2 separate regions of the Homo sapiens genome follow, and region 2 is linked to region 1. A link means that fine-mapping ties the variant in region 1 to the expression of a gene that starts in the linked region. Tissue or cell type: whole blood. Region 1 holds a variant in brackets; the other region holds the start of a gene. All regions are shown on one strand. Distances are between the middles of the regions.

The links. PIP is the estimated chance that this variant, and not a neighbour inherited with it, causes the effect.
Region 2: OR2W3 starts here. The variant in region 1 is fine-mapped to the expression of OR2W3 in whole blood (INTERVAL, PIP above 0.99).

Annotation. Positions count from the first base shown.
Region 1 is chr1:247,868,736-247,876,990 of GRCh38, forward strand. It overlaps TRIM58 (tripartite motif containing 58), which reads left to right. Exons shown (of 6, transcript NM_015431.4): 6 at 7,165-8,255. The coding sequence ends at 7,754. Among named protein-coding and RNA genes, the nearest start is that of TRIM58, 16 kb to the left of the region's middle. The variant A/T (reference allele first, on the strand shown) is at 3,429.
Region 2 is chr1:247,890,749-247,899,003 of GRCh38, forward strand. OR2W3 (olfactory receptor family 2 subfamily W member 3) reads left to right here and starts at 4,839. Exons shown (of 1, transcript NM_001001957.2): 1 at 4,839-5,783. The coding sequence starts at 4,839. The coding sequence ends at 5,783.

The DNA of each region.
Region 1 (8,255 bases):
TTACTCATTTATTATAAGGGCGTTACAGAGGCTAGAGATGAACAGATGGAAGAGATTCTTAGGGCGAGGTTTGTGAGAAGGGGTACGGAGCTTCCACGCCCTTTCTAGGCCTGCTACCTTTGGAACCTCCGTGTGTTCAGTGATCTGGAAGTCCTCAGGACTCAGTTCTTTTTTTTGTGTGTGTGATGAAGTCTTACTCTGTCGCCCAGGCTGGAGTGCAGTGGCGCCATCTCAGCTCACTGCAACCTCCACCTCCCATGTTCGAGCGATTCTCCTGCCTCAGCCTCCCGAGTAGCTGGGATTACAGGCACATGCCACCATGCCTGGCTAATTTTTATATTTTTAGTAGAGACGGGGTCTCACCATGTTAGCCAGGCTGGTCTCGAACTCCTGACCTCAAATGATCTGCCTGCCTCGGCCTCCTAAAGTGCTGAGATGACAGGCGTGAGCCACTGTGCCTGGCCAATGAACTCAGTTATTTTGGGTTTTTATGGAAGCACTATGTAGACGTGATTGATTAGATCATAGGCCATTGGTTTACCAACCCACCCTTAAGCCCCTCTCCCTCTTCAGAGGTGGGGGGGGGTGAGGCGTGAAGGACTGAAAGTTTCAAGCCTCTAATCACATGGTTGGTTCCCCTGGCAACCACACCCAGTGGGAGGCTTTCTGGGTAATCACCAACCACAATTCATCTTATTAGCTTACAAAAGACACTCTTGTATTTCTGGAAATTTCAAGGATTTTAAGAACTGTATGTCAGTAAACAGGATATAGACCAAATACACACTTCACAGTATCATAGGCATGGTGAATGTAGACCAAATATATACTTCCCAGTGTCATAGGTATGGTGCCTCCTGCACTGTAGACCAAATACGTACTTCACAGTATCATAGGCATGGTGACTCATGCACTCCTCTTAAAGGTACCCATGCTGAATTAGAGCATCTGGCCTTCCTGAGATTTCATGGCTAAGTCAAACTATCAAGGAGACAGTGTAGGGGGCAAGGGAAAACTTTCCCCTTTCCCTATGAATGTTTGCTGAAAATCAACTGACCAAAGACAAATAGGAACAAAGGCATAGAAAAAGTCTAACATTCATAGCACAGTGGAATCGCAGGAGAGTAATGACCCAATAACGCAGTGGGATACAGATGCTTATATACCTTTCTTTATTGGAGGAAAGGGAGATGGGGAGGTGTGGATGATTTTAGGGAGATAGTAAATGATTTTTTGGAGGATTCATTGGGCTTGGAGTGCATACAGTGGCTTGGGACAAAGTGTTGAAAAGTAGACAGTGGTTTGTGACTAAAGTCTGTCCAGGTGTATTGATAGACTTGTCTGTCTTCCTGCAATATGAGCTAAATTAATTAAAATGCAGGGACTTCAGGCAGATAAATGAGTGTTAGAATAAAGCTTCTTACAGTGTGTGATGGTCTCCAAGGGCCTTTAATTTAAAATAATGGGCATACCAGGGTGCCATATTTTAGGGTAAAATTCCCTGGTCTCCTTCCGTGGGAGAGTGCACCATGCCCAGAAAAATTAGGATTGGTATATTCATGAGCAGTATCAGAGTCACGGCCACCCATAGAGCCTGCACCACCATGCCCAGAAGAACGAGGATTAGTATATTCATGAGCAGTATCAGAGTCACGGCCACCCATAGAGCCTGCACCACCACGCCCAGAAGAACGAGGATTAGTATATTCATGAGCAGTATCAGAGTCACGGCCACCCATAGAGCCTGCACCACCACACCCAGAAGAACGAGGATTAGTATATTCATGAGCAGTATCAGAGTCACGGCCACCCATAGAGCCTGCACCACCACGCCCAGAAGAACGAGGATTAGTATATTCATGAGCAGTATCAGAGTCACGGCCACCCATAGAGCCTGCACCACCACGCCCAGAAGAACGAGGATTAGTATATTCATGAGCAGTATCAGAGTCACGGCCACCCGTAGAGCCTGCACCACCACGCCCAGAAGAACGAGGATTAGTATATTCATGAGCAGTATCAGAGTCACGGCCACCCGTAGAGCCTGCACCACCACGCCCAGAAGAACGAGGATTAGTATATTCATGAGCAGTATCAGAGTCATGGCCACCCATAGAGCCTGCACCACCACGCCCAGAAGAACGAGGATTAGTATATTCATGAGCCGTATCAGAGTCACGGCCACCCATAGAGCCTGCACCACCACGCCCAGAAGAACGAGGATTAGTATATTCATGAGCCGTATCAGAGTCACGGCCACCCATAGAGCCTGCACCACCACGCCCAGAAGAACGAGGATTAGTATATTCATGAGCAGTATCAGAGTCACGGCCACCCATAGAGTCTACATTTGGTTAGACTATGGGCTTAAAACTGTAGGTCATCTCTTATTAGCTGATATGAGTAACGTTACTTCCAGTAAATTTACATTTCCTTGCTTATAAAATGCTAAAAATAAATTGCTTGGAGGACAAAATGAAACATTTGAAAGCACCCCACCTCCTAAAAGTAATCAATATGAAAGCACTGCAAAGTTATCAATTAGCAAGAAGTTTGGTTTAATTTATTGGCTGAGAATTTGATGAGTTGCTTGAATTAGTGAGTCAATAAAGCCAAAAATATTGTCAGTTATTTTCATGTAGGAATAAGCAGTGTCACAAAAAATTAGTGTGTTTAGTCTGATTGTATTATTCTTTAAAACAGTATAGATTCAGTATTGTTTACAATTTCATTTTAAAATCTAATTTATCCCAAGTAATGAAAACTATGTCTAAATAGTGACTTCACTACTTAGAGGGAAAGAGTGTAAAGTCCCTTAATGAGAAAACCCATCTCTGCAGCATAGTACCCACGTTCTCCTGGGTAGATGAATGTATGCTAAATGCCCAACTTGATTAAAATCGTCATGGCACCCTCAGACTCAGCAACCTCATATCCATATTTGTTTTTATGGAATGAAATCATTCAAAATGTGTGATTAATTTTATCTCACCCATTCTTTTAAACATTGGAATATATCATTCAACAACAACAACAAAATACTCTACAATCCGTAGCTTTGTGTTGCAGATATGTACTTCACCAAAATACACAGGCTGTAAGTGGCTGACACAGAATATTGAAGAAAATCAAAAAGAGTATGCAAAGGGTAATGAGAAGTTCTAGTTTTGAATAAGGTGACCAGGAAAGACCCCGCCCTGCAGGGGATAACCCAGCAAATATATGATCTGGAAGAAAGCATTCAGGCAGCAGAAATGAGCGCCAAGGCCTGACGTGGAGGATGGCAGGTGTGTTCCAGGAGCTGTGAGGATGTCAGTGTGAGGACTCTGTGGCAGAGTAAATGACAGGAGGGTCGGAGAGACCAAGAAAGGGCTAGATAGGCAGGCCATGCTGAGCATGATACTTTATCCCTGAGCGAAATAGGACAT[A/T]GTTGAAAGTTGTACCTAGAAAAATAGTTTGATTGGACTAATGTTTTATGAGGATCACTCTATATGCTTTCTTGTAAGTAAATTACAGAGAGGAGAAGATTGACATGGGAAAAGCAGTTAAGGGTCTTTGCAGTAATTTGATGAGAGATGATTATGTGTTGGAATAGATGTTATTACGGAAGGTGCCGCAAGATGGACAGATTTTTGTTATATACTGAAGGCAGAGCTGTTAAGATTTGCTGTTGGATTATATATGATGTGCTATAAACAGGAAGAGCCATGAATGATTCCAAGGTTTTGGATCTTGCGAACTGGCAAAATGTGATTGCCACTTATATTGATGAGGAAAGCGACAGTTGAAGCAGAAGAAGGGCACAGGGTTTTGGATATGTGGATGTTGCGATGAGTGCTAAATATTCAAATGTTGCTATCAAGTGGGCAGATGAATGTACAATAGGGAGTTTCAGGGTAAAGTTCAAAGCTAAGCACATGCATTGGGAATCAGTCAGCATATGAATGGAATTTTATCAAAGCAATGAACCAGCCAGCACCCGGGTAGATAGGGAGTGAGGTGAGAGAGAGAGAAGAAGTCCAAGTCTTGGGACTATAGGTTTCTCCAGTGGTGGTGGTGGAGGAGAAGAGAACAGCAAAGAGGATCAAGGAGTAGTGAGCAGTGAGGGAAGGGAAACATGGATGAGTGTTACCTTTGGAAAAGGGAGATTTTCCAGCACAAGTAGATTCTCAGTGTTGAGAGATACAGAAAAATCATTGAAGATGAACTCTGGGCCGGGCGCGGTGGCTCACGCCTGTAAATCCCTGCACTTTGGGAGGCCGAGGCGGGCAGATCACCTGAGGTCAGGAGTTCGAGACCAGCCTGATCAACCTGAGGAAACCTTGTCTCTACTAAAAATACAAAATTAGCCAGGCGTGGTGGTGCATGCCTGTAATCCCAGCTACTCGGGAGGCTGAGGCAGGAGAATCACTTGAACCCGGGAGATGGGGGTTGCAGTAAGCCAAGATCATGCCATTGAACTCCAGCCTGGGCAACAAGAGCAAAACTCCATCTTAAAAAAAAGACAAACTGACAAGTAACCATTCATCAACACGGAGGTCCCTGGGAAGATGGACATGCGCAGTTTGGTTGGGGTATGGTCACATCATGATGAAGAATTGAGTTTAGGAGAGAAGGGGTAGGGAGAGGAATGGGATACAGACCATATCAAAAGCCATTTCACAGATCTCTTTTGTTAGAAATGAAGCAGACCACTGTGCCGGAAGAGGAATGGCTTGGGAATACATGACCTGTTAGATTGTGTTAAATGCACAATCCATGGAGACCTACCTTTCAATCTCTGTTATTTACCTCTAGAGTTTGGGAAGACCACATAAACTCTTTGACTCTGAATCTACTCTTGTGTAATGTAGGGATGACAATGGTGACCCTCAGGGTGGTTACATAATAAAAATAATGCAATGCGCAGTTACGTGACCACTCAGGTTGGGTATCAATAAAAATTCACTAGACCGGGCGTGGCAGCTCACGCCTGTAATCCCAACATTTTGGGAGGCTGAGGCGGATGGATTGCTTGAACCCAGGAGTTCGAGACCAGCCTGGGCAACATGGCAAAACCCCTTCTCTACAAAAAAATACAGAAAACTAGCTGGGCATGGTGGTGTGTGCCTTCCCAGCTACTCAGAGGGCTGAGGTCAGGGGATGGCTTGAGTCTGAGAGGTGGAGGCTGCAGTGAGCTGTGATTGCACCACTGCACTCCAGACTGGGCAACAGAGCGAGACTCCGTTTCAAAAAAAAAAGTAGTTCACTGTAAGTGTTTAAAGGCAAATAAGTATAGTGGTAGTGGTAGTAGCAGTAGCAGTAGCAGTAGCAGTAGAAACAGTATTTGTTCTGATATTAAAAATCAAACTATATTAACATGTTAGTCTGATTTTGCATTGCTATAAAGAAATACCTGAGGCTGGGTAATTTATTAATATAAGGAAATATGCTTTATTTTGGCTCATGGTTCTGTAGGCTGTACAGGAGTCATGGTGCTGGCACCTGTTTCTGGTGAGGCCTCAGGACACCTACAGTCATGGTGGAAAGCAAAGGAGGAGCCAGCGTATCACATGGCAAGAGGGAAGCAGTGAAGTGGGGAGGCCCCAGGTTCCTCTTAAACGACCAGCTCTTGCATGAACGGATAAAGAACTCACTTATCACCAGTGGGATGGCACTAAGTCATTCATGGGGGATCTGCACCCATGATCCAGCACCCCCCACTAGGCCCCACCTTCAACATTGGGAATCACATTTCAACATGAGACCGGGAGGCGATACACATCCAAACCATATTATTTATTAACTTACTACTTATAAGCAATGCTAATAAGGAAATGCACTGAATATTTTACATCCCCCCTTCACTGAGGTTTCATATCTAGATGTATTTATTTATTATGTATATGGGTCAAATGTCTCATCAATCTCACTGGGACTTCAGAGTATCAGTATTTTTTATTGTTATATAACGCATAACTACAAGCTTATGTGCTTAAAGCCATACCATTTAGTAGCTCATGGTTCTGAAGACCAGACATCCAAGTGGGATCAGCTGGCTCCTCTGCTTAGGTTTTCTCAAGGCCCAAATATGGGTGTTGGCCAGGCCAGGCCAGGCTTCTGTGTAGGTCGGGGGAAGAACCTTACCTCCAACCTTATTCAGGTTGTTGGCATAATACAATTCTGTGCAAATGCGGTACTGAGATTCCTGTTTTCTTGCTGGCTGTTGGTTGGGGGCTATTCTCAGCTCTGGAGATCACTCTCAGCTCTAGAGGTCACTCGTTTGTCTCTTCATGTGACCTTTCCATTTTCAAAGCCAGCAAAGAGATATCAAATCCACATCTTATTGACCTTTCCTGCTGCCACCAACCCAATAGCCAGAGAAAACTTTCTGATTTTACAGGACTTGTGGGATTTGATTAGACGCACCTTGATAATCTCTCTCTTGTCATATAGTGTAACATACTCATGAGGCTAACACCAGGGTGTGAAGGTCATGGGGTCCATCTTAGAATTCCGCCTACCACAGTAATATAACTTTGGAAGTAGTGGATTTAATATTAATAAAATTCTATAGATTTTTAAGAAAAAAATTCCTAAGGGGTTTATAAATTTTATGTTAAATGCAGAAGATCCTCCTAAGTGCACTCAAATGCTTTGGATGTAAGCCAGACATGGTGGTGTGCACCTGTAGTCCCAGCTGCTGGGGAGGCAGACACGGGAGGATTGCTTGAGTCCAGGAGTTTGAGGCTGTAGTGTACCACGGCTATGCCCATGAATAGCTCTGCACTCCAGCCTGGGCAACATAGCAAGACCCCGTCTCTCTGTCTCTCTCTCTCTCTCTCACGCACACACACACACACAAATGCTTTAGATGTAAATGAAAGGAAACTAAATGATAATTCACTTGGTTTGTCGTCATCAATAGTTGTTTTTTTTTGGGAAAGTTAAAGAGTTCTGGGTTACGCAGAGGTAACAGTGGAATATACCAGAAAGTTATAAAGAATAAGAATAATAAAGTAATAAAGAAGATTTCACCTGTAAGGTGAAATACTGATTTGTTTTCTCTAGGAGTTAATAGAGAGAGAAAAGTGAGGAACTGTGGGACTATTCTTTTCAGTGGTTTCCTAAGTTTCTACCAGTCCTTTCTTTCCTTTCACCTGGTCCACCACATTCTTTCCGCAGTGGATGTAAAGCTGGATCCCGCCACGGCGCACCCGAGTCTGCTCTTGACCGCCGACCTGCGCAGTGTGCAGGATGGAGAACCATGGAGGGATGTCCCCAACAACCCTGAGCGATTTGACACATGGCCCTGCATCCTGGGTTTGCAGAGCTTCTCATCAGGGAGGCATTACTGGGAGGTTCTGGTGGGAGAAGGAGCAGAGTGGGGTTTAGGGGTCTGTCAAGACACACTGCCAAGAAAGGGGGAAACCACGCCATCTCCTGAGAATGGGGTCTGGGCCCTGTGGCTGCTGAAAGGGAATGAGTACATGGTCCTTGCCTCCCCATCAGTGCCTCTTCTCCAACTGGAAAGTCCTCGCTGCATTGGGATTTTCTTGGACTATGAAGCCGGTGAAATTTCATTCTACAATGTCACAGATGGATCTTATATCTACACATTCAACCAACTCTTCTCTGGTCTTCTTCGGCCTTACTTTTTCATCTGTGATGCAACTCCTCTTATCTTGCCACCCACAACAATAGCAGGGTCAGGAAATTGGGCATCCAGGGATCATTTAGATCCTGCTTCTGATGTAAGAGATGATCATCTCTAAAATTCTGTTCCCAAGATGCAGTCCTAGCGTAGCGAACGTTCCTGGAGTGGGGTGAAGGATATCAATATACTAAGTTTTAACAGATACCCCATTTAGGTCAGCACTTGATTCGTTGTTGCTGTGAAATATGTCCATGGGACAAAAGAGGGAATATGAAATATTTGCATATGGGAAGATTATAGAGCATAATAATTTTGTAAATGGAGCAATCTCAACCTCTATTTCTAGATCACATTTTCTTGATGTCTTCCTTCAAATTAATGACCTTGGATTACATAAGGATTTCTATGCATTCATTATAATTTGTTATTCCTTTCAATATCCTTGTATTTCAAATCTTCCATATAAGAATTAGACATGGCAATTCTTAAATTGATTCAGAATGGTCTGATACTATTCCAGTATCACCTCCTTAATTCTGTTTCTCCTCGTTTTCCTGATTTTCCTTCTCATTCTCTCCTTCCCCGCTCTGTCTCTCTCTCCCTGTCACTCTCTCTCTCT
Region 2 (8,255 bases), 22 kb after region 1:
AATGTTCATCAAGGATATTGGTCTAAAATTCTCTTTTTTGGTTGTGTCTCTGCCTGGCTTTGGTATCAGAATGATGCTGGCCTCATACAATGAGTTAGGGAGGATTCCCTCTTTTTCTATTGATTGGATTAGTTTCAGAAGGAATGGTACCAGTTCCTCCTTGTACCTCTGGTAGAATTCAGCTGTGAATCCATCTGGTCCTGGACTCTTTTTGGTTGGTAAACTATTGATTATTGCCACAATTTCAGCTCCTGTTATTGGTCTATTCAGAGATTCAACTTCTTCCTGGTTTAGTCTTGGGAGAGTGTATGTGTCGAGGAATTTATCCATTTCTTCTAGATTTTCTAGTTTATTTGCGTAGAGGTGTTTGTAGTATTCTCTGATGGTAGTTTGTATTTCTGTGGGATCGGTGGTGATATCCCATTTATCATTTTTTATTGTGTCTATTTGATTCTTCTCTCTTTTTTTCTTTATTAGTCTTGCTAGCGGTCTATCAATTTTGTTGATCCTTTCAAAAAACCAGCTCCTGGATTCATTGATTTTTTGAAGGGTTTTTTGTGTCTGTATTTCCTTCAGTTCTGCTCTGATTTTAGTTATTTCTTGCCTTCTGCTAGCTTTTGAATGTGTTTGCTGTTGCTTTTCTAGTTCTTTTAATTGTGATGTTAGGGTGTCAATTTTGGATCTTTCCTGCTTTCTCTTGTGGGCATTTAGTGCTATAAATTTCCCTCTACACACTGCTTTGAATGCGTCCCAGAGATTCTGGTATGTTGTGTCATTGTTCTTGTTGGTTTCAAAGAACATCTTTATTTCTGCCTTCTTTTTGTTATGTACCCAGTAGTCATTCAGGAGCAGGTTGTTCAGTTTCCATGTAGTTGAGCGGCTTTGAGTGAGATTCTTAATCCTGAGTTCTAGTTTGATTGCACTGTGGTCTGAGAGATAGTTTGTTACAATTTCTGTTCTTTTACATTTGCTGAGGAGAGCTTTACTTCCAACTATGTGGTCAATTTTGGAATAGGTGTGGTGTGGTGCTGAAAAAAATGTATATTCTGTTGATTTGGGGTGGAGAGTTCTGTAGATGTCTATTAGGTCCGCTTGGTGCAGAGCTGTGTTCAATTCCTGGGTATCCTTGTTGACTTTCTGTCTCGTTGATCTGTCTAATGTTGACAGTAGGGTGTTAAAGTCTCCCATTATTAATGTGTGGGAGTCTAAGTCTCTTTGTAGGTCACTCAGGACTTGCTTTATGAATCTGGGTGCTCCTGTATTGGGTGCATATATATTTAGGATAGTTAGCTCCTCTTGTTGAATTGATCCTTTACCATTATGTAATGGCCTTCTTTGTCTCTTTTGATCTTTGTTGGTTTAAAGTCTGTTTTATCAGAGACTAGGATTGCAACCCCTGCCTTTTTTTGTTTTCCATTTGCTTGGTAGATCTTCCTCCATCCTTTTATTTTGAGCCTATGTGTGTCTCTGCACGTGAGATGGGTTTCCTGAATACAGCACACTGATGGGTCTTGACTTTTTATCCAACTTGCCAGTCTGTGTCTTTTAATTGGAGAATTTAGTCCATTTACATTTAAGGTTAATATTGTAATGTGTGAATTTGATCCTGTCATTATGATGTTAGCTGGTGATTTTGCTCGTTAGTTGATGCAGTTTCTTCCTAGTCTCAATGGTCTTTACATTTTGGCATGATTTTGCAGCGGCTGGTACCGGTTGTTCCTTTCCATGTTTAGCACTTCCTTCAGGAGCTCTTTTGGGGCAGGCCTGGTGGTGACAAAATCTCTCAGCGTTTGCTTGTCTGTAAAGTATTTTATTTCTCCTTCACTTATGAAGCTTAGTTTGGCTGGATATGAAATTCTGGGTTGAAAATTCTTTTCTTTAAGAATGTTGAATATTGGCCCCCACTCTCTTCTGGCTTGTAGGGTTTCTGCCAAGAGATCCGCTGTTAGTCTGATGGGCTTCCCTTTGAGGGTAACCCGACCTTTCTCTCTGGCTGCCCTTAACATTTTTTCCTTCATTTCAACTTTGGTGAATCTGACAATTATGTGTCTTGGAGTTGCTCTTCTCAAGGAGTATCTTTGTGGCGTTCTCTGTATTTCCTGAATCTGAACGTTGGCCTGCCTTGCTATATTGGGGAAGTTCTCCTGGATAATATCCTGCAGACTGTTTTCCAACTTGATTCCATTCTCCGCATCACTTTCAGGTACACCAATCAGACGTAGATTTGGTCTTTTCACATAGTCCCATATTTCTTGGAGGCTTTGCTCATTTCTTTTTATTCTTTTTTCTCTAAACTTCCCTTCTCGCTTCATTTCATTTATTTCATCTTCCATTGCTGATACCCTTTCTTCCAGTTGATCGCATCGGCACCTGAGGCTTCTGCATTCTTCATGTAGTTCTCGAGCCTTGGTTTTCAGCTCCTTCAGCTCCTTTAAGCACTTCTCTGTATTGGTTATTCTAGTTATACATTCTTCTAAATTTTTTTCAAAGTTTTCAACTTCTTTGCCTTTGGTTTGAATGTCCTCCCGTAGCTCAGAGTAATTTGATCGTCTGAAGCCTTCTTCTCTCAGCTCGTCAAAATCAATCTCCATCCAGCTTTGTTCTGTTGCTGGTGAGGAACTGCGTTCCTTTGGAGGAGGAGAGGCGCTCTGCGTTTTAGAGTTTCCAGTTTTTCTGTTCTGTTTTTTCCCCATCTTTGTGGTTTTATCTACTTTTGGTCTTTGATGATGGTGATGTACAGATGGGTTTTTGGTGTGGATGTCCTTTCTGTTTGTTAGTTTTCCTTCTAACAGACAGGACCCTCAGCTGCAGGTCTGTTGGAATACCCTGCCGTGTGAGGTGTCAGTGTGCCCCTGCTGGGGGGTGCCTCCCAGTTAGGCTGCTCGGGGGTCAGGGGTCAGGGACCCACTTGAGGAGGCAGTCTGCCCGTTCTCAGATCTCCAGCTGCATGCTGGGAGAACCACTGCTCTCTTCAAAGCTGTCAGACAGGGACATTTAAGTCTGCAGAGGTTACTGCTGTCTTTTTGTTTGTCTGTGCCCTGCCCCCAGAGGTGGAGCCTACAGAGGCAGGCAGGCCTCCTTGAGCTGTGGTGGGCTCCACCCAGTTCGAGCTTCCAGGCTGCTTTGTTTACCTAAGCAAGCCTGGGCAATGGCGGGCGCCCCTCCCCCAGCCTCGCTGCTGCCTTGCAGTTTGATCTCAGACTGCTGTGCTAGCAATCAGCGAGATTGCATGGGCGTAGGACCCTCCGAGCCAGGTGTGGGATATAGTCTCGTGGTGCGCCGTTTTTTAAGCCGGTCTGAAAAGCGCAATATTCGGGTGGGAGTGACCTGATTTTCCAGGTGCGTCCGTCACCCCTTTCTTTGACTGGGAAAGGGAACTCCCTGACCCCTTGCGCTTCCCAGGTGAGGCAATGCCTCGCCCTGCTTCGGCTTGTGCACGGTGCGCGCACCCACTGGCCTGCGCCCACTGTCTGGCACTCCCTAGTGAGATGAACCCGGTACCTCAGATGGAAATGCAGAAATCACCTGTCTTCTGCGTCGCTCACGCTGGGAGCTGTAGACCGGAGCTGTTCCTATTCGGCCATCTTCGCATGTATTTATTTTTATTTGTCTTAGTTTGGGAGTACTGTTTTGTTACCTCCACGTATGGATTTATATTAATTTGCGAGTACTGCTTTTTACCTGCACATACATGCTTATATCTATTTATATTAATTTGGGAGTACTGCTTTTTACCTGCACATACATACTTATATCTATTTATATTAATTTGGGAGTACTGCTTTTTACCTGCACATACATACTTATATCTATTTATATTAATTTGGGAGTACTGCTTTTTACCTGCACATACATGCTTATATCTATTTATATTAATTTGGGGGTACTGCTTTTTAGCTGCATGTATTGCACAGTGGCGAAGTCTTGGCTTTTAATGCATCCATCACCCAAACACCAGGATGGACCAAGTCTCCCTATATCCATCTGTAAGACTTGTGGTTTGTCTTATCAAATATGCTTTGCTTTGAATGTGATGTGGTATTAGAGTTGGAACGTGATAGAGGTTTCTGTACATATGCGTGAATTTTGCATTACAGTTGTAATATCTGTTACAAAGTTTTTTCAATCTCTTTTATCCTCTCAAGCAGTATATAGTACTTTGGAAGAAAAACCCATACACTCTATTTGTTCAATACCAGGCCCATTTAAAAGACAGAGAGAAAAAAAGAGATTTTATGTGTATTTTGCCTGTCTCTTACATTATTTATCTACTGAGGTAATTTTAAAATTAAATTAAATTAAATTCTGAGGTAATTTAAAAATTACCTCAGTAATGGTAACCCAATGAATGAGGTGTGTCTTTGAGACCAGTAATAGATAAAGTACTCTGTGTGTAAAGAGTATTTCCTAAATACTATTGATGGATTATTTTGAGGCTCCATTTTGAGTCCTTGAGGTTTTTGGCAGGAGCCTAGGGACTGGAGTCTCTAGAAAAATTCGTGGTTTGGCCACAGCAGGATTTGCCTTCACTTCACTGGATTTGGAGGCAGTGCTACTGGTGGTTTAGATTGCACACTCTCAGCTACATTGCCGGGGTTCAGAATCAGCTCTGTGTCTTCCTACATATCACAGTTTGCTCAACACACATGTGTTTCAGTTTCCTTTTCTATAAGTTGGGAGCTAATAATAATAGTGCAACTCCATATAACTGTTGGGGTTGAATGAATAAAATAAATATAAAAAGCATAGAAGAATGCTTAGCTTCTAGTAAGTTCTCCCTTAATATCAGCTGTTATTATTATTATTAGGATTGATATTTCTGTTCAGCAGCAGTAGAGATGGATGGAACCAATGGCAGCACCCAAACCCATTTCATCCTACTGGGATTCTCTGACCGACCCCATCTGGAGAGGATCCTCTTTGTGGTCATCCTGATCGCGTACCTCCTGACCCTCGTAGGCAACACCACCATCATCCTGGTGTCCCGGCTGGACCCCCACCTCCACACCCCCATGTACTTCTTCCTCGCCCACCTTTCCTTCCTGGACCTCAGTTTCACCACCAGCTCCATCCCCCAGCTGCTCTACAACCTTAATGGATGTGACAAGACCATCAGCTACATGGGCTGTGCCATCCAGCTCTTCCTGTTCCTGGGTCTGGGTGGTGTGGAGTGCCTGCTTCTGGCTGTCATGGCCTATGACCGGTGTGTGGCTATCTGCAAGCCCCTGCACTACATGGTGATCATGAACCCCAGGCTCTGCCGGGGCTTGGTGTCAGTGACCTGGGGCTGTGGGGTGGCCAACTCCTTGGCCATGTCTCCTGTGACCCTGCGCTTACCCCGCTGTGGGCACCACGAGGTGGACCACTTCCTGCGTGAGATGCCCGCCCTGATCCGGATGGCCTGCGTCAGCACTGTGGCCATCGAAGGCACCGTCTTTGTCCTGGCGGTGGGTGTTGTGCTGTCCCCCTTGGTGTTTATCCTGCTCTCTTACAGCTACATTGTGAGGGCTGTGTTACAAATTCGGTCAGCATCAGGAAGGCAGAAGGCCTTCGGCACCTGCGGCTCCCATCTCACTGTGGTCTCCCTTTTCTATGGAAACATCATCTACATGTACATGCAGCCAGGAGCCAGTTCTTCCCAGGACCAGGGCATGTTCCTCATGCTCTTCTACAACATTGTCACCCCCCTCCTCAATCCTCTCATCTACACCCTCAGAAACAGAGAGGTGAAGGGGGCACTGGGAAGGTTGCTTCTGGGGAAGAGAGAGCTAGGAAAGGAGTAAAGGCATCTCCACCTGACTTCACTTCCATCCAGGGCCACTGGCAGCATCTGGAACGGCTGAATTCCAGCTGATATTAGCCCACGACTCCCAACTTGCCTTTTTCTGGACTTTTGTGAGGCTGTTTCAGTTCTGACATTATGTGTTTTTGTTGTTGCTCTTAAAATTGAGACGGGGTCTCACTCTGTCACCTAGGGTAGAGTGCAGTGGTGCCACCATAGCTCCTTCGACTATTGGGCTTAAGCGATCCTCCCCCACCTCAGCCTTCCAAGTAACTGGGACTACAGGTGTGCATCACTGGCAGTGGGAATTGTGGCTTGTGGCTTTTCTGTCTTCTATGGAGACGGGGTCTTGCTGTGTTGACCAGGCTGGTCCCAAACTCCTGGCCTCATGTGATCCCCCTGCCATGGCCTCCTAAAAGTTCTGGGATTACAAGTGTGAGTCACTGCGACTGGCCAACATTATGTGATTTATGTGTGAACTATATAACACAAATCATCCCCAAAACCCATCATGATCTGTAAAGCAGCTGCAAAGAATGAAGTGAGACAAACAGTTGTAAAGATGAGTTTCCACCTACTTATACCAGAGTGCTAAGAGGAAATAACTCTTCTCAATCAGAGCTTTGCTTTGTTTGTTGTTGTTTGCTTTAAAGTCTAACACACCTGACATGTTTCAGTCAGAATGACCCCAAATGCATCACTGTTCTCCACGTGGTCCAAGTGCCTCTCTGTTTAGGGCCATCAAATCATGGAATGCAGCACAGTTTTATATTTTCTATATTCCCAATTCCTACCCAAACCTTTTCATGAAATCGTAGAGTTTGTTTTACCCTTTATCTGGTGTAAGATTCTGCATAAACCAAGAAGTGAACCTGTAAGTTATGATGCATGGGTTGTTTAAATCTTAAAGCATCATTCTTTCTCAGGCATGTTTTTTTCATTATTAGTAAGAAGAACCTGACATTGGTTTAGTCCCTTCTGTGTACCAGACGCTCCTAAGTCATGCAACCTCAGTATTTGTATGAGGTCAGCATGATTATCATTATTCCCATTTTATCTCCCTGGTCCTTGAGATCTGAAGGTTAAATCTTTTGCTCGAGGGGAACTGAACCAGGGTTTTTTCCAAGTTCTGTCAGACTCCCGATTCATATGGTTTCTATTGCATCATGAAATTTCAAAGAGCAAAAATCCTTAAGCATTTGGCACACAATGTCAAAGACCCTTTGGGGCTAAGGGGCATGACTGGCTACTGTTCCTTACACATTGCAGTCCTCAATGTGTCCCACTAACGTGCCCTCCAGTTATCTGAGGTCTTGTTCCAATGCAATTCCAATTCAGCTGGTGATAAGAGGGGTCTGAGTTTCTGCGACTCTGCAAACCTCCCAGGTGATGTCCCTACTTTGGGGACTCGGACTACATTTTAAGAACCCAGGAAGTATATCACCCCCTGCTCTTGTTCCGGGCATTTGGAGGGTGGACACATTCTGGAAAAAGTTGGGAGAGTGTTCATAGACCAAGGGCGAACACAAGGTGAGAGGGAGTGGTGTGAAAGGCCAGCTGAGGGGTGGTCCTCATTCCTCTGCCGTTGCTCCTGTGCTCGGCTCCCTCCTCCTCCACAAGTGTATTTCTGCGCTCTTTTGTATCCTCCTCACCTCCACACCTCACATCTAAAGTCACCAGCCCCAGGGCATTGTGTAAGTGTAAACAAACCAGAGCCCCAGAGAGGGGGATTCCTGTGCTTCCAGAGCACCCCCTCTGACTATTCAAGGATGCTGTTTGTAAGAAGTACTGATGTGGATGTGTAGTAGGAAGAGCCGCAGACAAAACTCCTCAGACACCGAGTTAGAGAAGGAAGGGGTTTATTCGACCAGGGGCATCGGCAAGACTCCTGTCTCAAGAGCCGAGCTCCCCAAGTGAGCAATTCCCGTCCCTTTTAAGGGCTCACAACTCTAAGGGGGTGCGCGTGAGAGGGTCGTGATCGATTGAGCAAGTAGGGGGTACGTGACTGGGGGCTGGTAATTAGATCGGAACAAAACAGGACAGGGATTTTCACAGTGCTTTTCTATACAATGTCTGTAATCTATAGATAACATAACCGATTATGTCAGGGGTCAATCTTTAACTACCAGGCCCAGGGTGTGGTGCTGGGCTGTCTGCTTGTGGATTTGATATTTGCCTTTTAGTTTTTACTTTTTTTTTCTTTGGAGGCAGAAATTGGGCATAAGACAATATGAGGGGTGGTCTACTCCCTTATTCCCCCCTTTGAGAGTCTCACTCAATAGTGGGAGTTCTCACTTTCATTTTTACTACCCATGTCTTCTGGCAAGACAGATCAATAGTGATTCATATAGTACACTTGTGCTGAAGCTTTTGGTGAACTAAGGTAGTGATGAAGCTTTTTATCATTTGAAGAAGTACAGGTAGCAAACAAAGGAGCAGTAAGTAGGTTCCTATTACTATTATAACTCTTATT